Homo sapiens: one gene and its partner. The protein of the gene in region 2 interacts with the protein of the main gene of each other region in a pairwise test. Each region holds a gene or a part of one and is shown on either strand. Other genes may lie near its edges.

Region 1 (3,500 bases), on a different chromosome or scaffold from region 2:
TCTGTCACCCAGGTTGGAGTGCAGTGACACAATCTCAGCCCACTGCAACCCTCGCCACCCGAGTTCAAGTGATTCCCTGCCTCAGTCTCCTGAGTAGCTGGGATTATAGGCGCCCACCACTGCACCCGGCTAATTTTTGTATTTTCAGTAGAGATGGGGTTTCACCATGTTGGTCAGGCTGGTCTCAAACTCCTGACCTCGTGTTCCGCCTGCCTCACCCTCTCAAAGTGCTGGGATTACAGGCATAAGCCACCGCATTCGGCCTCAAGTAAAGACTTTCAAAAGCACTAGTTCAACTAGCTTTTCAGAATTTGTTTAGAAATGTATTAAATTATATTTCAAAAATGTGTAAACATTCCATTTTATGGAGTATTTTGTCTTTTAGTTTTTCCTTCGTTGGCTTGTCCTTCTTGAAGGGGTTTAACTTTTTTTTTAATGCATATTTTAACAACACACCAGTATCTATTACTGCCAGATGTGGAATCTGTACCATTCCATGAGAAAGCAGAATGGGAAACTGTAGCTAAAAATACCCTGGAGAAGAGCACATGAATAAAGGAAGATAGCACACACACACACACACACACACACGCAAATATGTGTAAAACTAACGCTAAAGAAATAGGAACGGCCGGGCGCAGTGGCTTACGCCTGTAATCCCAGCACTTTGGGAGGCCGAGGTGGGTGGATCACTTGAAGTCAGGAGTTTGAGACCAGCCTGGCCAACATAGTGAAACCCCGTCTCTACTAAGTATACAAAAAATTAGCTGGGCATGGTGGCGCATGCCTGTAGTCCCAGCTACTTGGGAGGCTGAGGCAGGAGAATCGCTTGAACCTGGGAGGCGGAGGTTGCAGTGAGCCGAGATCGCGCCCTCGCACTCCAGCCGGGGCATCAAGAGCAAAACTCCATCTCAAAAAAAAAAAAAAAAAAAAAAAAAAAAAGAAAAGAAACAGGAACAGAATTGGTTGGAAAATATAGGTTTGGGTTTTTAAAAATCTTTTTACTTAGTTACTTAAAATTTGAAAATTCAAATGGCAAGGTGAAATCTAGTTATTACTTAGTGAAATAACTTTCTTACTTTTTTAGGGCTAATGTTAGCTCTAAGTATCTGTTTATAGTTGGACTAGTTCAGGGTCAATGGAAGTTTTAAAAAGAGGTGTGGGAATGGTATTAAAGGCATTAAGATATTCAAACCCATTTCTGCCTTGACTGACTCCACTACTTCTACTCCCTCATCACGCCTTTGAAAAAGGAAAATATAGTTTATTTCTCTTACCTTTGCTCGAGGCCTAATGCTTACCTTCTTATTAGCTCTCACCTAAATATCAGTAGTATACTTCTATAAGTAATTGGATTGGAACAGCTTTTTGAAGATTTTGTTGCTGGCTAATATAAATAATACACTTAATCAAAATTATTCTTAAAAACTAAATTTAGGTATACATGATTGGCTTCTCTGGGTTTTATAACATAAAGAATGTGAGCAAGAGAACCAGTTCTAAATCCCAGTATAAAATGCCAATACTCCAATGCCAAACCATTGGTTTGCCTCCAAAAACAGGTGGTTATAGGGTTCTTGTATTGCTGGGTGACTGCATAAAATATCTTTTGACAAAGAATTTGATATACTGATCTCATAATTACACCTAAGTATAGCCTTTACTTTAATGAACATAATCTATTTTTACCCAGTGCAAATATTCACATTGATATACTAGGCTTTAAAGTGTGGAAAAGAATAGGACATACATGTTTTTAAAACCAAATGGAAACCTAAAGGGAAAGGGAAATTTTCTTTTTGTTCATTCAATTTTAACAGAAATAACAGCTTAAGATTTTTTTATTTAATACTTATATTATTTTTCAAGGAAAAGACCATTTCAGGCATGAAGAATATCATTGCTGAGATGGAACAGGCATCAAGGTAAATCAGTCGTGCAACAAATATATGAGCTCTTACTGGGGGGCCAAGTACCATGTTAGGTACAAAGATAGTAAGAAACAAGGGGCTTAATGATACGTGTAAGGTGCTAACTCTCTCATCAAAGGAGGCCTAAGTCTGTCTAAGGAACTAAAAGAGGGGATGGTGTTTGCCAAGTAAAATAAGGGGAAGGGAAGGGCATTTAAAGTAGAAAGAATAGCAAAGAACCACAGATCATGTTGACAAGCCTCTTGACCTACAAGTGGGTGAGTGTTGTTGAAACCTAGAGTGTAAGGGGAGAAGTGAAGGGAGGAGACTAAATAGGCAGGCAGAGGCTTGTGTAACAGACAAATGAGTATTGGTTATATCCTTTGGGCAATAAGAAATCATTAAAGAATTCTGAGGAGAATTTTGTGTTAGAAAGATACCTAAGCAGAAGAGGTGGTGATAAATTGGGGTTTAGGAGTTGTGGGACAGAAGGAGTGAAATGCTTTTGTATGAGGGAGAGACACCAGGAAAATGCCAAGTTTCTGGCCAGGGACAAATACTGAACATGAAGAAAGTATGAGGAGAAAAAATGATTTTACCTCTGAATTTGAAGAACCTTTGGGACCTTATTGTAGACATGTCTAGTAAGCAGTTAAATATAAGTCTGGAGTATAACAGAGGGTCTAAAACTGGAGATAATTATTTTGGAGTCATTGGATCTAGATGGGGTTGGGAACCATGGATATGAATAGAGTTTGTCTGAGAGAAGGGTTAGAGTGAGAATAATTGGGAGGCTAGGGCTTGAGCCCTGAAAAGCATTAATTTTTAAGTGGGCAGAGGAAGAGGAATCTGTAAAGGAGACTAAGCCATAACAGAAGTAGGATGAAAGCCTTCCTAATACTTGATGTAAGAAGTTTTGAAATATTTGGCAAATCATTGACTATTATGTATACTTTGTATCCTTTTCATAGCGAAATGATGGCAACATTGAGAAACTCTAATGCACTGTCTTTGCAGTATTTATTCCTATAAATTCAAACGTGTTTAAAATCTCTTCAAATGTTTTCATACTAACTGTCCATCTTCTGTCTTGTGAGAATTTGTTGCTCTGTTTCAGTAAAATGTCTCTTCTTATGTACTCTTTGATTTGTGGAATAGACAGTGTACTGAGGCCCTAATTGTGTGTGAACAAGACGTTTCCAGAATGCGTCGGCAATTGGATGAGACAAATGATGAGCTGGCCCAGATCGCCAGGGAAAGAGATATCTTGGCTCATGACAATGACAATCTCCAGGAACAGTTTGCTAAAGCTAAACAAGAAAACCAGGTACACTTGTTCCTAGAATCATTTTCTCCAAGAAAAAAAAATATGAATTTCTTGTGAGGAACAGCCCTCATTTTATTTTATAGAAGAGCTCAGACACTGGAACTAGCCTTTTCTTTTTTTTAAAAAATAACAAAATAGGCCACATAATTTTTAAATGGAATTCTCAGACACAAAGGGTTAAATATTAAAGAAAAGAGAGAACAGGGCTATATTTGTATTAAAGCTTAGTACTTCCTTGCTGAAGGATAAATATTTGAATAATC
Region 2 (3,500 bases):
GAAATTCAAACAGCATCTCAACATGAATCCTTCACAAATTTGCACATTTGCTTAGGCTGCTATTTAAATTATTTTCATTTCCCTGTGCACGTGCCAATAGCCAGTAGAGAGGACAGCCCAGGTGCTCCCCAAGCTGGCTGGGGGGATAGGGGTGGGGGCGGGAGAGAGGATGATGCTGGAAGAATCAGATTGAGGTGAACACAAGGCTGTACATACTCCACCAAGTGGACAATCAAGAGTCAACCCTGAAACCACCTCTCCCTCTGACCTGGCAGCTTTCTCATGACCATTCTTCTCTCTTCTTCCGTCTTTGTCCCTTCCGTGTGCCCCCTCCTCCAACACCCTCACCCGCTTCTCCCCGCCTCTGTCTGTCTGTCCCTCCCTGCCTGGCTCATGCCGAGGGCAGGCACCTCTGTCAGCCTCCTCGCAGTTGTAGTTATTGTGTGTGGCGTGGCCCTGGTGGCAGTTTTTCTCTTTCTCTTTTGGAAGCTGTGCTGGATGCCCTGGAGGAACAAGGAGGCCTCCAGTCCCTCTTCTGCTAATCCCCCCTTGGAAGCCCTCCAGAGCCCCAGCTTCAGAGGCAACATGGCGGACAAGCTGAAGGACCCCAGCACCCTGGGCTTCCTGGAGGCGGCCGTGAAGATCAGCCACACGTCCCCAGATATCCCAGCTGAGGTGCAGATGTCGGTCAAGGAGCACATCATGCGTCACACCCGGCTGCAGCGGCAAACTACAGAGCCAGCGTCATCCACCAGGTGAGGAGTGGACCACTCCCTTCCCTGACCCCCACACCTCCACACTCCCTTAATACATCTATGGGATTCCAGCCTGTGGGGATCACAGACCAGAAATAATAACACATATCCTTTGATTGACAAATATGTCAGATGATGTGAGCCATGATGGGTGATCAATGAGGAGGTGGGCACCAGGAAAGACTTCATGAAAGGGAAACCTTTGAGGCGGGTTGCTGTATATGTGGTTTGCACTTGGGGTGTGTGTGGGTGTGAGGGGAATGGAATAGTGGAATAGGGGAGTGTTGGATGTTTGGAAGGAAAGACTTCAGGCAGAAGGAAGAGAACAGTAAAGGCCTAGAGATGTAAGAGTTCATGGTGTGTTTAGGGATATGTCAGTAAAGCCTGATAGCTACAGTCTGCAGTACATGGCAGATAAGGCAAGGGAATCTTAATAGTTTGAGAATCAGGATTCCTTTAAAGCCTTTCAGAGTTCCCTGCATGACAACAACTGTAAATACATACAGCATCCTTTAACTGAAAATAGCAACAAGAAAAACATAACGACAAAAACCTACCCTAAATTCAGAAGCACTTTTAAAAGATGTGGTGCAAGCATGCGTAAGGCATTGTATTTACTCAAAACTTAGGGCTCTGATGGACTCCTAGGTCCCTGCAACGGCTCTCCAGGCCCTCAGGGGACCAACAAAAGAGAACGAGGCCTGGTCTTCAGACTGGAGGCCAGGAATGAACATGCTGGGAGGTCACACTGACAGTCTGTCATATGGCCTTGGGCAAGTTCCTCACCTTCCCTTAGACTCACTTTTTCCAACTGTAAAATAAGGCTGATGACTTTTATATGGCAGTTGTGAGGAGCCAATGGAAGAATCAATGTGATTGATAAGGAGAGCTAACACATATATTGCTTATGATTATGCTTGGCTCTATTCTAAGCACTTCATATGTAATCAATTCATTTCACAGCAATCCTATGCAGCTGTTACTTTTATTATCCTCGTTTTTATGGCACAGAGAGGTTAAATAACTTTCCCAAGATCTCAGCTAGAAAGTGACAGAGCCAAAATTAACCTATGCAGGCTAACTCCAAAGCCCATGCTTTTACCACTCTGCTGCCTGCCGTATAGCAAATGCTTAACAAATGGTGATGGTGATGATGGTGATGAAGTGGGTGCCACATTGAGGATAAGAAGGGATGGTCCTTCTCTTAAGGAATCTCATGATTTAATAAGGAAACCAGAGTCATGTCTACTAGGAAGTAAACCTAGAAAGCAGGTAACAGAAAAGCAGGAAAAAGTGATTATGATAACAATGGCTAAAGTTTATTGAGCTTACTATATATCAGGCACCATTCCAACTACTTTACATATATTAAGACATGTAATGCTCACCACAACCTTGCACACAAAGTGTATGCAGAGCAAAAGTGGGGTCAAGAAGAGGAAGGAAAAGGGGGCTCAACAAGGGATAAGATGAGCCAGGGCCTCCAGGCTCGTGTTTGCCTTCATCCCCCTTCCCCTGAGCCCTGACCACACTCCCTCTGCCCCCTCCTGCCCTCTACCAGGCACACGTCCTTCAAGCGCCACCTGCCAAGGCAGATGCATGTCTCCAGTGTAGACTATGGCAATGAGCTTCCACCAGCAGCAGAGCAGCCCACCAGCATTGGCCGCATCAAGCCTGAGCTCTACAAGCAGAAGTCGGTGGATGGGGAGGATGCCAAGTCTGAGGCCACCAAGAGCTGCGGGAAGATCAACTTCAGCCTACGCTACGATTACGAGACCGAGACCCTGATTGTGCGTATCCTGAAGGCTTTTGACCTCCCTGCCAAGGACTTTTGTGGAAGCTCTGACCCTTATGTCAAGATCTACCTCCTGCCTGACCGCAAATGCAAGCTGCAGACCCGGGTGCACCGCAAGACCCTGAACCCCACCTTTGATGAGAACTTCCACTTCCCTGTGCCCTATGAGGAGCTGGCTGACCGCAAGCTGCATCTCAGTGTCTTCGACTTTGACCGCTTCTCCCGCCATGACATGATTGGCGAGGTCATCCTGGACAACCTCTTTGAGGCCTCTGACCTGTCTCGGGAAACCTCCATCTGGAAGGATATCCAATATGCCACAAGTGTAAGTACAGCCCTGTTCCTTGGCTTCTTGAGGATTTGTGGTTCTGGGTTGGGTGGGACATGTCCCCAAACCCTCACTTCCTAGAGACAAATGGGCCTTTGCCATTTGGGATGTGAAGAGGGACTCTGGAAACTGCCCAGTGGCCCAGTCTACCCTTGCACTCTGCCCCAGGTTGGGATGGCAGAGAGCAGAGTCCCCATGTAGCTAGGAAGGGAAGGGAATTTTTATCTGTGGCTTCTGGTTGCATGTTCTGGGGTGGTTCTTTCTACTGAGAGTACTGATGTGCATTAGAAACTTGGCATAGGCAATTGAAACAGGCCATATCAATCAGACTGAACTAGGCTATGCTGCAGCAGCAAACAGTCCGAGGATTTTGTGGCTTTAGACAACCAAAGTTTATGCCTTGTTCATGTTTCATGTGCTTTGCAGCTGGACTGGGGACTCTGCTCCACCTTGTTACCTGGGGACCCAAGCCAACAGAGGCTGCATTTAGACACGGGCCCCCACAGTTAAACATCAGGAGGAAGAGGAAGTGGCAAATCACGCACTGTTTATTAAAACTTCCACGCAGAAGTGACACATGTCACTTCCACTCCCATTAGAACAAGACACGCGGTAACTCCTA

What was found. Proteins that work in one complex are often made in the same cells at the same time.
Region 1: the proteins of SYT6 (region 2) and TSGA10 interact in binary tests that used the Homo sapiens proteins (3 or more experiments, as listed by UniProt).

What each region holds. Positions count from the first base shown.
Region 1 is NC_000002.12:99,071,443-99,074,942, reverse strand, and holds part of TSGA10 (testis-specific gene 10 protein), read left to right. Parts: intron 1-1,869; coding exon 1,870-1,925; intron 1,926-3,068; coding exon 3,069-3,237; intron 3,238-3,500. UniProt on the Homo sapiens protein: Plays a role in spermatogenesis. When overexpressed, prevents nuclear localization of HIF1A.
Region 2 is NC_000001.11:114,136,870-114,140,369, reverse strand, and holds part of SYT6 (synaptotagmin-6), read left to right. Parts: intron 1-406; coding exon 407-755; intron 756-2,316; coding exon 2,317-2,875; intron 2,876-3,500.